Homo sapiens: one gene and its partner. The protein of the gene in region 2 interacts with the protein of the main gene of each other region in a pairwise test. Each region holds a gene or a part of one and is shown on either strand. Other genes may lie near its edges.

Evidence for each region. The genes of interacting proteins can lie anywhere in the genome.
Region 1: the proteins of CEBPA (region 2) and DDIT3 interact in binary tests that used the Homo sapiens proteins (3 or more experiments, as listed by UniProt).

Annotation. Positions count from the first base shown.
Region 1 is NC_000012.12:57,517,515-57,525,237, reverse strand, and holds the start of DDIT3 (DNA damage-inducible transcript 3 protein), read left to right. Parts: upstream 1-4,723; 5' UTR 4,724-4,757; coding exon of another isoform or gene 4,758-4,820; intron 4,821-5,978; exon of another isoform or gene 5,979-6,075; intron 6,076-7,484; coding exon of another isoform or gene 7,485-7,526; 5' UTR 7,527-7,532; exon of another isoform or gene 7,533-7,723. Other genes in the region: MBD6 (methyl-CpG-binding domain protein 6), read right to left, coding at 123-285, 416-518, 822-934; uncharacterized LOC128125814, read left to right, coding at 4,758-4,820, 7,485-7,526. UniProt on the Homo sapiens protein: Multifunctional transcription factor in endoplasmic reticulum (ER) stress response. Plays an essential role in the response to a wide variety of cell stresses and induces cell cycle arrest and apoptosis in response to ER stress.
Region 2 is NC_000019.10:33,299,486-33,306,511, reverse strand, and holds CEBPA (CCAAT/enhancer-binding protein alpha), read left to right. Parts: upstream 1-3,977; 5' UTR 3,978-3,992; coding exon of another isoform or gene 3,993-4,097; coding exon 4,098-5,174; 3' UTR 5,175-6,578; downstream 6,579-7,026. UniProt on the Homo sapiens protein: Transcription factor that coordinates proliferation arrest and the differentiation of myeloid progenitors, adipocytes, hepatocytes, and cells of the lung and the placenta.

The DNA.
Region 1 (7,723 bases), on a different chromosome or scaffold from region 2:
CAACATGCAGCTCCCCACCCACTCCCCTTTCTCTTTGCTCCCTCTCAAGGAACTCCTCCCACCACCAGCCTTCCAAGCCCTTAGGTTTTCCTCGGTCTTCTGTAAAGTGGCAGAAGACTCACCAGGAGAAGAGTGTGAGCAGGTGGTCTCCATGCTGCGGTACAGAGTTGCCATAGCAACAGCTTTCCGCCGGTGGTTGCACAGCTTGGTCATGTCCTCCTCTGATGCTGGCCCCACCCCAGCCCCACCCGGGGTCACCGGGGCCAAAGGGTCAAAGTTGAAAACCTGTAAGGTGGAAAGCAAGGACAGGGACCCTGAGGGGCTGGAACCTGTGAGAAGGGCTACCTCAGTCAGTGATTTGCATTAAGACTTTTAGCTTATCTCTGTACTCTCAGGCGCCCCTCACCACTCTGACCTTGGGGACATTAAGTGGACACTCCAGACCGCACTTGCAGGTCCCATCGCTGAGGAGGTAGCTCCGGGTTTGCTCCAAGGAAGACAGCTCTGTGCCACTTGGACTGCGAGAGGACAGGGTCAGAGGACATGGGGTTAGCTGGCAGCGAATCAGGCAATACTCCTAAAGCACAGTGCTTAAGTTACAGATCCTCCTAGAAGAACAGAGGATAAGGAATGTGGGAAGACACAGAAAAAGGGAGAATGGATTCAAAGGCCCAGAGCTACAGAAAGCAAAAAGGCTGAGGAAGGAAGGGGAAGAGAGGAGAGCAATCGGGTACCAGAGAGCTGAGCTGAGAGAAGAAACGGAAGAAAGAAAACCTGGGCAACTGGAGTGGCAGAGCTTGGGGACCTGTGAAGATCCGTACCTGATGTAGAGCACAGCACCCTCTCGCACACAGCGCTGCCAGCCGATGGGGACAGATGTGGCCACAGGGCCCCCAGCTCTGTCTGCTCCACTGCTCTCATTGCCCCCATTCATTGTGTGTAATCAGCTCCCGCGTGCCTGATAACACAGACATCCATGTAGGCACTAGGAGGATTAAACTGAGCGAAGTACCTGAGAGAGGACTCCAGGAAGGCAAAGGTTGTGGGGAGACCCAAGAAAACTCAGGGGAAGCCCCAGAGGAGCAAGGGGAACCCCTCAGCTGGGAGGGAGACTGAGGAGTCCTCTGCCGTATCACCACAGCTACCTGAACATCTCTGCAAACATTGTGGGGTCCAGTCTAAAGCCGGGGCCACCAGCTTAGCCCACACCTGCAACGCAAGTAGAGAGATGGGACTGTCAGGAGTCTGCCCAACTCTAAAGAGCAGCACAGCCCAGCACCCTCTCAAAAGAAAGATCCTTAACAATGTGAGGCAAGCACCTATAAAGATCTCGGGGATCTGCTGGCTTAGTCTACAACCATCCTTTCCAAGCCCAGTCCCTAGGGACCAGAGGGTCAGAACCTCAGCTCCCTGGGACCAAGAAAGTCTAGCCCAATTCTTAGGCATATGAAGGGCAAGGCCTCCCTCCATTCGGAGTAGAAGACTTCAACCAGGAGTATGGGCACATTCCCATAATGCTAGGCCACTAGGAAGTTTCCCAGAGTGTCTGGCTCCTGTTGTTCTCTACCCAGGAAGATGATATAAAAAGTACAGATTGCCCCACAGGTCACCAGGCAATTGCCCAACTGCCCGCTGGGGTGGTACCAGCAGAACTCCCCCCATGCCTGCTCCATCAGACAATCGCTGATATAGTTCATTCGGGTCTTAAGAGGTGAGGATCACAGCTCAGTCTTCTCCCAGGATCCTGGGAAGCTCCTGATTTTCCCTCAAGCCTACGGCAAAGGGATTCAGAACCTCCTATTCCACTGGCTTCCGATTATCTCCAAGAGAGCCTGTCCTCCGATAGAAGGGGAAGCCCCTCCAACCTGCAGGTATCCTCCCCAGCCTCACCATTGCTCCCACCCCACACTGGCGGCTTCCAAACTTTCCCTCTCACAACAAGGCGCCCTGTCACCCAGACTGCTTCCCTCAGCTTGAGGAGGAGGGGAAGGCGCACGAAGTAGGAAGGAACTTGGGGAGAGGGCGGGCGGAGGGTGGGCGAAGCACTGAGGGGAGGGCGGTGAGGAAGGCAGAAGTCTGGCAGTGAGAGGGAGAAGCGGCGGGGGCAGGTGAGGGCGGGGGAGTGGGGATGGGGCCGGGGAAAGGGGCCGAGAGGACGCGGAGGGGGCAGAGGGTAGGGACGGGAGGGGGAGGGGCAGGGTGGGGGGGGCCGGGCCCCGCACTCACCGCGGCCCATGGTTCGGCCGGCCCCGCCCTGCGCAGTCGCGGCCCAGAGGGTGAGTGGGAGGGGGTGGGAGGAGGGTCGGTGGAGCCCGAGCCTCCGGTACGGCCCCGGCCGGTCCTAGCAGGAAGCGCCGCTGCCGCCGCCGCGGATCACCGAGCGGCCTCCCGCGCATGCGCCATGGGGGCCAGGGGCAGCCCTGGGGATTCCGTTCCCAGAAGGCACTGCGCAGGCTGCTGCCGCTGCCGCCGCCGCCGTCGCTGCCGCAGCCGCCGCCGCAGGAGCCGCCGCCTCCGCCGCTGCCCGGACGGGAGAGGGGCGGGGCCGGGCCCCCGCCCAGCGGACAGCGACGAGCCAACTGGAGGGGCTGCAGTGCGCATGCGGGAGCGCGCCTACCCCTCCCCCACAACCCCCCATTAATCCCCAAGAGAACAAACACCCCACGCGGCCCCCCCGCCCTCCGCGGAAGGATCTGCGCCTCTTCCCAGGCCACTGGTGGCCAATCCCAGCCCTCCTCAGGGAGGGGCCCCTTCCAAAGCCACAGTCTGTTGCGGGAACCAGGAATGCCAGGTCCGGGAGGGGCCAGGCCCCGAAAGATGAAAGTCGCGACTTGCCCTGCCCCGCCCCAAAGGCTTCCCGGGTAGTGTGCTGGGACTTGACCCGCCTCCCCAGGTCAACATGTCACAACACGACCTCAGCCTGTCAAGTCACATGACCTCTGCCTGTCACTGACAACCTGGTCTGTCTTTAGGCCAGGGGAGACCATCTGGTCCACCCTCCACACTACCCCCATTTTCAGAGAGGAAATGGAGGTGTGGAGCAGCGGAGCAGCCTAACCAAAGACCTGTCATTGCCACACCACTCCAGTCACAACCGGCCTTGTGACAGTTTCTACTTAAACTCTGGCTGCCCCCATGAGGGTATGACAGGATATGTAACAGGCCACCACATGGCCTCTGTTTTCAAGGCACAAGAAAAATACTTTGCATTCTGGGTGGTGCGTTTTACTTTTGGTCAAGTTGCCTCCAAGTTCATGGTTCTCATTTTACCTTCACAACTTTTATCTTTAATTTACAAACAAGGACGGTAAGATCCCTTGGCAAGTGATGGGGAGTTGAGTCTAAAATCGCGGCTCCGGTCTCCCCAGTCCAGGGCAGTCCTGCGCTGAAGTGCACTCACACGTCCCGGGATGAGACTCCGCTGTAAATCTCGACCCGAACACCTAGGAGGCAGGCCTGTGCCGCGCTCCTCACACAGGGAGTCACAGGACTTGCTGTCTGGTACAGCAAGAGAGGGTCTTGGAGAAAGCCATAGGAGTACCGTGGGGGAAAATAGGTGGCCAAACAGAATCGGGTCCACTGGGCAAAATACATGACTTCTGGCAGGCTGAGGGCTTACCAACTACAAGGTAAAAGTCAAGGGCGCTGTTCTGAGAGAAGCGGAAAATGACTACCAAGGGATTCCAGTACCTCGGCCCCTTTTGGGAGATTTACGGGGCTAGAACAGGAGACCACCCCCGTTTTTTTGTTTGTTTGTTTTGTTTTTTGTTTTTGGTGAAACGTAGTCTCGCTCTGTCACCCAGGCTGGAGTGCAGTGGCGCGATCTCGGTCACTGCAACATCCGCCTCCAGGGTTCAAGCGATTCTTCTGCCTCTGCCTCCAGAGTAGCTGGGATTACAGGCGCGCATCACCACACCCGGCTAATTTTTGTATTTTTAGTAGAGACGGGGTTTCACCATGTTGGTCAGGCTGATCTCGAACTCCTGACCTCAAGTGATCCGCTCTCCTCAGCCTCCCAAAGTGCTGGGATTACAGGCGTAAGCCACTGAGCCCGGCCAGGAGACCTCTTTAAGAAGACTCGAGATGTCGACAATCCCAGTGGATGGATACCAACTTTAAAAAGAAAAGTTCAAAAGGCCTATGTGCCCATTAGCTGGGAGGGGCCAAGAAATATGGGAGTCCCTTATAGTGGGGGTAAAACGGCGGGTAAAGCTAGGTGGGCGGAACAGCAGCTTCTGGGGGAGACAAGCGGCAAAGAGGCTCACGACCGACTAGGGGCGACCAAGGCTGATAGCCGTTGGGGCCGTTGGGCGCCGGGAGCTGGCGCCCCGCCCTCTCTCCTCTCCCCCACCCTCCGCACCTCCCACCACCCTCGGTGTCCCCTGCGCGTGCGCGTGCAGACACCGGTTGCCAAACATTGCATCATCCCCGCCCCCCTTTCCTCCCCTCCCCCCCCGCTACACTCCCCTCCGCGCGCGCGCATGACTCACCCACCTCCTCCGTGAAGCCTCGTGACCCAAAGCCACTTCCGGGTCCGACACTACGTCGACCCCCTAGCGAGAGGGAGCGACGGGGGCGGTGCCGCGGGGCTCCTGAGTGGCGGATGCGAGGGACGGGGCGGGGCCAATGCCGGCGTGCCACTTTCTGATTGGTAGGTTTTGGGGTCCCGCCCCTGAGAGGAGGGCAAGGCCATGGTAAAAGATTACAGCCAGGCGCTCCCGAGGTCAGAGACTTAAGTCTAAGGCACTGAGCGTATCATGTTAAAGATGAGCGGGTGGCAGCGACAGAGCCAAAATCAGAGCTGGAACCTGAGGAGAGAGGCGAGTACTGATTCCCATCTACCTTTTACCCTCCCGTCTCCTCAAAGTTGGGGCGTCCGCTCTTTAGGATCGGCCTCACTCCTCCACAGTGAAGTTAGGGACCGTCCGAGAGAGGAATGGGGAGAGTCCCTTATTCTGGGGTGGTGCTTACAAACCCCTATTGCTTCGGACGACGGCGTCTCTCCACCCCTGCCCGGAGCCGGAACACGGGCCCTGCTCTGTGCTGCTGGGCAAAGGGACCTCGGTTGCCCTTGGGAAATTCATTCTTTCCCGTAGCCAACTTCAGGCCTCATCGTTAGGCCTGTCCGCGGGGAGGCAGGTCAGCAGGACACACCCCCGCTCTAAGACTGGGTGACCATCGCTCAGGCCGTTTCCGCCGCTTCGCCACCAGCGGGCCTTCTCCCTACCCCACCCCCAATTCTGTCTCAGTCTCAGTGCCTCTGGTGTCAGCATGGCCACCTTGGTAGCTGGGGCTACTGGACCCTGCAGCGGATAGGGGAACCTTGAGGAGACACAAGCCTTTGGGAGGGGTGCCGATGGACAGGGAGTGGTGTGTTTTCCTTTTGCCGTAGAGGTCTCTGGGCCTCCTGCACAAGAGAGCAGCCTGGATCTCTTAAGTGTAGGAGGCCATTTGGGGTCTCCCCAGGGTATTGTCCTTCCCTCGGGATTAGTCCCTGCCTCTTTAACCCGGTCCTGTCTCCCAGCTAATCTCTGTGTAACCATTGCATCAGGCCAGCCCCGTTTGGCTCTGCAGCCTTCTGACCTGAGGCTCTACTGCTGATGAAAGCCAAGTCCCACACACTGGAAGGCAAGGGAGGGTTCCCCAGGGAGGACAGCCCTGCAGAGAAATACTTCGGGCAATATTGCATCTCTAGCCCCTAGGGATCAGCAGCTGCCACTCTGCTTCTGCCCCTTCCCTATAAGAGAGACTGGGGGGAGTTTATCCATTCATTCTTAACAAATACTTAATGAGGACCTACTGTGTGCCACACAGTTTGGGGCTCAGGGTACATCCTTGAGCAAGAGGAAAAAATCATCTCAGTGGGAGGCCTACAGTAAACAAAATATAAGTGCCACGGAGAAAGCTAAAGCAGAGAAAGGAATGGAGAATGTTCAGGATGGAGGTCAGAGTGTTACATCAGGTGGTCAGGAATTACCTTAGGTAATTCCTCCACTCAAAACCCTTCAGTGACTTCCATGACATGAAATAGGAAGTCATTGGAGGGTTTGAGCAGAGGAATGACCTGTTTTAAAAGGCTCACTCAGGCTGCTGTATGGTGAATAGAGTTGCGGAGGGGTGGCAAGAGAAGAAATGGGAAGACCTTCTGCAGTCAGAAAGTTTCTGCAGTAATTTAGAGATGGTAGTGAATTGATCTAGATTGGAAACAATGGAATTAGAAGTGTTTAGATTCTTCTAAGCAAAGGTTTTAAAAACTCATTTTTAAAGAATGAGTTAAGGGCCGGGCATGGTGGCTCACACCTGTAATCCCAGCACTTTGGGAGACCAGAGGTGGGTGGATCACCTGAGGTCAGGAGTTCAAGACCAGCCTGGCCAACATGGTGAAATCCCATCTTTACTAAAAATACAAAAATTAGCCGGGCATGGCAGTGCATGCCTGTAATCCCAGCTACTCCGGAGGCTGAAGCAGGAGAATCGCTTGAACCCAGCAGGCGGAGGTTGCAGTGAGCCGATTGCGCCACTGCCTTCCAGCCTGGGCAAAAAGAGTGAGACCCGTCTCAGAAAAAAAGGAATGAGTTAAAATTTGCTAGTACTTTGGATTGCAGGGTGTGAGAGAAGAGGAATGAAGGATGATACCAAGGTTTTTAGCTTAAGCAACTAGAGTTGTCATCTGAGATGGGGATGACCTTGGAAGGGGAAAATCAGCAAGAGTTTGCCTTTGCACATAGTCTTAGGTGCCTATTAGACATTGAAAAAGAAATGGCAAGTAGGCAGTAGACAGCAGAGTCTGAAGTTCTGGAAGAGGTCCAGACTGGAAATGTACATTTGGAGGATGTCAGCCCTGTGGGAATGGAGTTAGGAAAATGCTATGATTTGTTCCCTTCCCTGTAGTTTAGTTTTTACCCTGGCAGATTTGAGGCCTGCTTTGGATTTAGAGAAAGCTGAGTTGGCCAGGACTTTACTATTATGTAACCAGGACTACAAATGTCAGCAACTAAAAATAAAGAAAGTCAGGCCCTCTTCTGCCCTTCGAAATGGCTACAGGGACCAAGTATGCATACCCCACAAGACCAGAAGTAAGGAAGGACCAGTAGGAGGCTGGAGGTAAAAGAAAAATAAGGGCCCAGCACGGTAGCTCATGCCTATAATCCCAGCACTTTGGGAAGCGATGGATCACAAGGTTAAGAGATGGAGACCATCCTGGCCAACATAGTGAAACCCTATCTCTGCTAAAAACACAAAAATTAGCTGGGCGTGGTGGCACGCGCCTGTAGTCCCAGCTACTCGGGAGGCCGAGGCAGAAGAATCACTTGAACCGAGGAGGCAGAGGTTGCAGTGAGCCGAGATCGCACCACTGCACTTCAGCCTGGCAACAGAGCAAGACTTGGTCTCAAAAAAAAAAAAAGAAAGAAAAAAAGAAAAAGAAAAGTAAGTTGCCTCTCCCCCTTCCAAAAATGGCTGACATTTCTCTTTGTTGCCCACAGTGTTCAAGAAGGAAGTGTATCTTCATACATCACCACACCTGAAAGCAGGTAAACTTAACCTACCCTTTTCCAAAAATTTTAAACGGCAGGACAGTAAATATTTTAGATGTTAAAAGTCCTATAGTCTCTAGCGTGACTCTTCATCTCTGCCACTGTAGCACCAAAGCAGCCATAAACAATATGTAAATAAACAGATGTGGCTGTATTCCAGTACAACTTTACCTACAAAAACAGGCATC
Region 2 (7,026 bases):
AAATAAAACATTTCTAGGGCTCTGTTTGTCTTCTCAAAATGGTTAGTGCTGTGATTGACTCCAGAATCAGGCTTCATCCTGGAGCATCCAAAACTCAGGACCACCGTTTCCCGGGGACTCACGCTCAACCCCCCACACTGGGCCTGTGTACACCCCCATCCACAGCCTCAGGAAGAAGGACCTTAAAGGTGGTCACAGAAGAATTTACAAGCTGCTCTTAGGACTGGCTTTGTCTCAGTTGCACATGAGCCAGAGCCACTTCTCCCAATCAAAGGTGATTTCTCCTTTGCTCCCACTTCTCCAGCCACAAGCCAACTGTCTATGAGACTGTCAGACATCAGCCCCCTCTCCCTTACCCTGTGGGACTCTCCCATGGAAAGTGCCTCCATCGACCCCAGGGTCTCACCCCAACTCCCCAGCTAATTTCCTGCTTTAGGGCTTGGGCAGGACACTTCTATCTAGGGCCCTAGACACCCCCTGTCCTCTGAGAACCCCGCCAGGCCTAGCCAGAGACCTACCACTTGCCCTCAAAACCATTTCCTCCTCATCCCGAGGTACACTTTTAGGCTTCCAAGGAAAAACCAGAACATGGTAGATGGATCTTCGCAACTGCTCCAAGGTCTTCCCCTCCAAAACCACAAAGCAGGCAGGTGAGTATCCTGGAATGAGTCCCCAGTGGCCTCCTGGGGGCTTGGAGAGGGGCCTCCAATTTCCTGGGCATTATATGTGTCAGGGGGTGGTAATCCCAGCCAGAAGCCTGGCATTCAGCCCCCAAGTCCTGACATCTTGTTCTAATCTACCCTGCCCGCTCATTACTGGGGCAATACAAGTCTCCATCCTTTCCCATCTGGTCAACACCCCCTCTCCGTCTTGGCCAGAGTAGATTCTCAGGAACCCAAATCCGACAACGAAGCTCCCCTGCTAAAATCTGGAGGTCAAAAGCCTGGGAGATAAGGGTTCCCCCTTCACCTGCAGTGGCCTTGGCCATCAGCCCAGCCCTGTCTGCGGATCCAGCCTTATCTAGGCCCCACCCTCCCTCACCCCACTCTCCAGCCGGCCAACCATCTCGTTCTTTGTTACCAGAACACATGCACTGGCAGGCTCTCCACCTTTGCACTTACCATTCCCTCCTCCTAGAAGAGCCTTCCTCCCTTATCCTTCCAGCAAATTCCTGCTCAACTTTCAAGGCCCAGCTCAAAGGTCTGCTCCTGCATGAAGCCCTGTCTCACCGCCGGTTCAGTCCAAGCAGGCTGCCATCATAGACCTACCATAAACATTTATTTCTCATGGTTCTGGAGGCTGGATGCCCAAGGCCAAAGCCAAGCTGCCAGCACCCTCAGGTTCTGGTGAGGGGCCTCTTCCCTGCTTGCAGACGGCCACCTCCTTTCTGTGCATGCCCATGACATTGTTCTTCTGATAAGGCCACCAATCCTATCAAATTAGGACCCTACCCATATGACATCATCTCACTTTAATGACTTCCTAAAAGCCTTATCTCCAAATACAGTCACATGGGGGTTAGGCCTTCAACATAGGAATTTGGGGCAGGGACACAGTTCAGTCCATAACACCTCCGCAGACAAATCTGATCTCTGCCTCCTCCACAGCGCCACCTTGTTCAGGGCAGGACTTCTCTTCATCACAGCACATCCACCCTTGATTCCCATTTGTGCCTCGTGTGCATTTGATGAATGAATGAAGTCCCATCCCCTACTCCTTCTGTCTCCTCCTTCCTCCCAGCAGCCTCTGTGTGACAACTTATCCGTCTCTCCCACTGTCCCAGTTCCCAGAGGCAGGAGCCACCCTCTCATGCATCCCTGGGCTCTCGGCACCCTGCACAGGGCAGGCCCGGGTGGGTGAATTCTGGTTCAATTGTAGGAGGACCTGTGGCCCCTGGGGTTGGCGAACCCCGGGCCGGGAGTCCCACTCCTTGCCATTGTCGCCCCCACACATTCATCAGCCCCCTATTGGACAAAGTCTTATTCCCATTACTGAGGTTTCTTCCAGTCCTACGGGGCAGAGTTCCCGATCTCTGGGCAGGCAACAGCAGCTGTGCAAAAAAGGCCAGACATCGCCTTCCTCCCACAACTCCACAGGCCGGGAACCGTGCATGTACAGTGGCGTTTCTTTGTTCCTAGGTAGGAAAAGCCATTAGTTTTAGCACCGCAGAAAAAAACGCAAATCGCTCTTGGTGCTTTTTGATTTCCGTCCAGGTCTCCCTCCACAGGTGAATGCTATATGAATGGGTCCTGCATTTGGCTCAGCAAGCAGCTCTCCGGCTCACATCGGGATATTTATTTAACGTATCTGGTTTTTACTCCCTCCCGTCCAAAAGCGTCAAGCTAAAAATATCTTGTTTATGAGCTCTGGACCGAAAACGAAGCAGTTGGGCTATTAATCACTGGGACTATGTTGAATAGGAACTTGATTAAAGCGCAGTGTGCGTTGCCCAGATGAAACTGCTTCTTTACTGCGATCGTCGTGGAAGCTCGGGGCTCTCCAGCGGTGTTTTTAGCTGTGCCCCCTCCGGGGCTCCTGGGCGGGTCGTGGCGCCTTGCCAGGCCTAAGGCCACTGTCGGTGAAGGGGGTCTTCCCTCACCTGTAGGCAAGCGCGCCTCTAGCCGGGACGCAGGCGGCGTCAGGCCTCAGCGCCAGTGGCGAGGGGCGGCGCGGGCAAGGACAGGAGACACTTGAGGGCTCCCAAGACTCCATCTGGGCCCAGCTGACGGTCCGTAGCCGCCACCCCGGCCCCGGTAAAGAATGCGAGGGACGCACGTGGCTGGGGGTCTCGGTGGCAAGCTCCTTCCCCCGCCGCGGTGAGAGCATTAGCTGCCGCACTCAAGGGGCCCCAGGGCCTGGCCGCCTCGGTCCCTAGGATCCCGGGGACTACAGCGCCCGGCGAACCACTGGGCAGAGTTCTCCCTGTGCGTGCTCGGACCTGGCAGCCCGGCGGCCTGGACACCCTCGCTCCCGCCGTTGGCGCCCACCTGAATGGGGAGGCGGGGGAGGAAGCGGTGGCTTCGGGCCTCGAGGGCTGCGGCCCCCGCCTCGGAATCCCGGCCCCAGAGTTAAGTTTGTCTCCTCCCTCGGTGCGCCCCTCCCCGTGCTCGCCCCGGCGTCCAGCTCCGCTAGTCTGGGGGGCCCCGCGGTCCCGCAGGAAAAAAAATCGGCGACTCCACGCCGGGTAACAGCGCCGGCCCCGCGCGCCTAGCAAGCCGCGCGCTCCGACCTGGAGAAGTAATTATAAAGAAAGTTTTCCAGCCCGGGCGGATCGACCGGCCAGGTCCTCCAGGCTCCCGGGCCGAGGCCGCCTCCGCTCCCCGCGGGGTCCTAGCGCCCTGCGCGGCGCCGCCCATGGGACCCCGGCGTCCTCCGAGAGGTACCTCTGCGCGGAATCACAGGGGTAGCCTGGAGATCAGAGCTAGGAGACGCAGAGCCACCGCGCTCAGGACCTCTCCGCGCGTCCCAAACGGCCCCCCACCGGCCCCAGCCCCGCTGCTCTGCGCTGCAGCCTCCCCGGGACGCGGGTCCGGGACAGGCCTGGTTCTGGCTTTGAAAGAGAATCCGCGCCCCAGCAGCTCAAGACCAAGACTCGCCCTCCGCCCCCCACCCCTACCCCGTGCAGCCTCGGGATACTCCTGGGCTCCCGGCCGTGGCTGGATACGGGCGCCTAGGGCAGGCAGGAGGAGGGGGCCCCCGCTACCGACCACGTGGGCGCGGGGGCGACGGCCGGGCCGGGGGCGGAGCTTGGAGCGAGCGCCGCGGCTCTGCTGGGCGCGCTGGAGGCGGTGGGCGTTGCGCCGCGGCCTGCCTGGGGAGCGCGGCGCTGTGCCGCGCTGGTTCGCCGCCCCATGCCGGCCGCGCGCTAGGACCCAGCAGGCGCCGCGCCGCCGCAGCCCGGGGACAGAGGCCGCCTCGGACTCTAGGGGGCGACGCGGCCTGCCGGGTATAAAAGCTGGGCCGGCGCGGGCCGGGCCATTCGCGACCCGGAGGTGCGCGGGCGCGGGCGAGCAGGGTCTCCGGGTGGGCGGCGGCGACGCCCCGCGCAGGCTGGAGGCCGCCGAGGCTCGCCATGCCGGGAGAACTCTAACTCCCCCATGGAGTCGGCCGACTTCTACGAGGCGGAGCCGCGGCCCCCGATGAGCAGCCACCTGCAGAGCCCCCCGCACGCGCCCAGCAGCGCCGCCTTCGGCTTTCCCCGGGGCGCGGGCCCCGCGCAGCCTCCCGCCCCACCTGCCGCCCCGGAGCCGCTGGGCGGCATCTGCGAGCACGAGACGTCCATCGACATCAGCGCCTACATCGACCCGGCCGCCTTCAACGACGAGTTCCTGGCCGACCTGTTCCAGCACAGCCGGCAGCAGGAGAAGGCCAAGGCGGCCGTGGGCCCCACGGGCGGCGGCGGCGGCGGCGACTTTGACTACCCGGGCGCGCCCGCGGGCCCCGGCGGCGCCGTCATGCCCGGGGGAGCGCACGGGCCCCCGCCCGGCTACGGCTGCGCGGCCGCCGGCTACCTGGACGGCAGGCTGGAGCCCCTGTACGAGCGCGTCGGGGCGCCGGCGCTGCGGCCGCTGGTGATCAAGCAGGAGCCCCGCGAGGAGGATGAAGCCAAGCAGCTGGCGCTGGCCGGCCTCTTCCCTTACCAGCCGCCGCCGCCGCCGCCGCCCTCGCACCCGCACCCGCACCCGCCGCCCGCGCACCTGGCCGCCCCGCACCTGCAGTTCCAGATCGCGCACTGCGGCCAGACCACCATGCACCTGCAGCCCGGTCACCCCACGCCGCCGCCCACGCCCGTGCCCAGCCCGCACCCCGCGCCCGCGCTCGGTGCCGCCGGCCTGCCGGGCCCTGGCAGCGCGCTCAAGGGGCTGGGCGCCGCGCACCCCGACCTCCGCGCGAGTGGCGGCAGCGGCGCGGGCAAGGCCAAGAAGTCGGTGGACAAGAACAGCAACGAGTACCGGGTGCGGCGCGAGCGCAACAACATCGCGGTGCGCAAGAGCCGCGACAAGGCCAAGCAGCGCAACGTGGAGACGCAGCAGAAGGTGCTGGAGCTGACCAGTGACAATGACCGCCTGCGCAAGCGGGTGGAACAGCTGAGCCGCGAACTGGACACGCTGCGGGGCATCTTCCGCCAGCTGCCAGAGAGCTCCTTGGTCAAGGCCATGGGCAACTGCGCGTGAGGCGCGCGGCTGTGGGACCGCCCTGGGCCAGCCTCCGGCGGGGACCCAGGGAGTGGTTTGGGGTCGCCGGATCTCGAGGCTTGCCCGAGCCGTGCGAGCCAGGACTAGGAGATTCCGGTGCCTCCTGAAAGCCTGGCCTGCTCCGCGTGTCCCCTCCCTTCCTCTGCGCCGGACTTGGTGCGTCTAAGATGAGGGGGCCAGGCGGTGGCTTCTCCCTGCGAGGAGGGGAGAATTCTTGGGGCTGAGCTGGGAGCCCGGCAACTCTAGTATTTAGGATAACCTTGTGCCTTGGAAATGCAAACTCACCGCTCCAATGCCTACTGAGTAGGGGGAGCAAATCGTGCCTTGTCATTTTATTTGGAGGTTTCCTGCCTCCTTCCCGAGGCTACAGCAGACCCCCATGAGAGAAGGAGGGGAGCAGGCCCGTGGCAGGAGGAGGGCTCAGGGAGCTGAGATCCCGACAAGCCCGCCAGCCCCAGCCGCTCCTCCACGCCTGTCCTTAGAAAGGGGTGGAAACATAGGGACTTGGGGCTTGGAACCTAAGGTTGTTCCCCTAGTTCTACATGAAGGTGGAGGGTCTCTAGTTCCACGCCTCTCCCACCTCCCTCCGCACACACCCCACCCCAGCCTGCTATAGGCTGGGCTTCCCCTTGGGGCGGAACTCACTGCGATGGGGGTCACCAGGTGACCAGTGGGAGCCCCCACCCCGAGTCACACCAGAAAGCTAGGTCGTGGGTCAGCTCTGAGGATGTATACCCCTGGTGGGAGAGGGAGACCTAGAGATCTGGCTGTGGGGCGGGCATGGGGGGTGAAGGGCCACTGGGACCCTCAGCCTTGTTTGTACTGTATGCCTTCAGCATTGCCTAGGAACACGAAGCACGATCAGTCCATCCCAGAGGGACCGGAGTTATGACAAGCTTTCCAAATATTTTGCTTTATCAGCCGATATCAACACTTGTATCTGGCCTCTGTGCCCCAGCAGTGCCTTGTGCAATGTGAATGTGCGCGTCTCTGCTAAACCACCATTTTATTTGGTTTTTGTTTTGTTTTGGTTTTGCTCGGATACTTGCCAAAATGAGACTCTCCGTCGGCAGCTGGGGGAAGGGTCTGAGACTCCCTTTCCTTTTGGTTTTGGGATTACTTTTGATCCTGGGGGACCAATGAGGTGAGGGGGGTTCTCCTTTGCCCTCAGCTTTCCCCAGCCCCTCCGGCCTGGGCTGCCCACAAGGCTTGTCCCCCAGAGGCCCTGGCTCCTGGTCGGGAAGGGAGGTGGCCTCCCGCCAACGCATCACTGGGGCTGGGAGCAGGGAAGGACGGCTTGGTTCTCTTCTTTTGGGGAGAACGTAGAGTCTCACTCTAGATGTTTTATGTATTATATCTATAATATAAACATATCAAAGTCAATGTCGGTGTCTTTTTAAAACCAGAAAGAAGCTACTTCCAAGGTTGTCTGTGGGCCAGGTCACATTTGTAAATAATACAGCATTTTCCCTGGCGGCAATCCTGACTTTCATGAGCTCTCCATCCATCCTGAGCCCCTCTTACCCTAAGGGGGTGACTTACTTCCCCCAGGCAAGACAAATAAATAGCAGAGGACAAGGCTCCAAATGGAGTATGTCCAGAGCCTGAAGGCAGTCTCTTGGGGTCAGGGGAGGGGGCTGAAGGGGTTACTGGGCTGAGGCCTTGGCGAGGCTTCTTATCTGCCCCGGGGAGGAGGAGAGGGAGTCCTCTGCCTGAGGGGTAGGCCTGGCTAAGCAGCCCTAGGCTCAAGGAGCCCTTTGTGCAGACTTCCTTGCAAATCACCTACAGCTGCAGCCCTGGCCACTCACACACACCGCAGCTCCAGATTCCA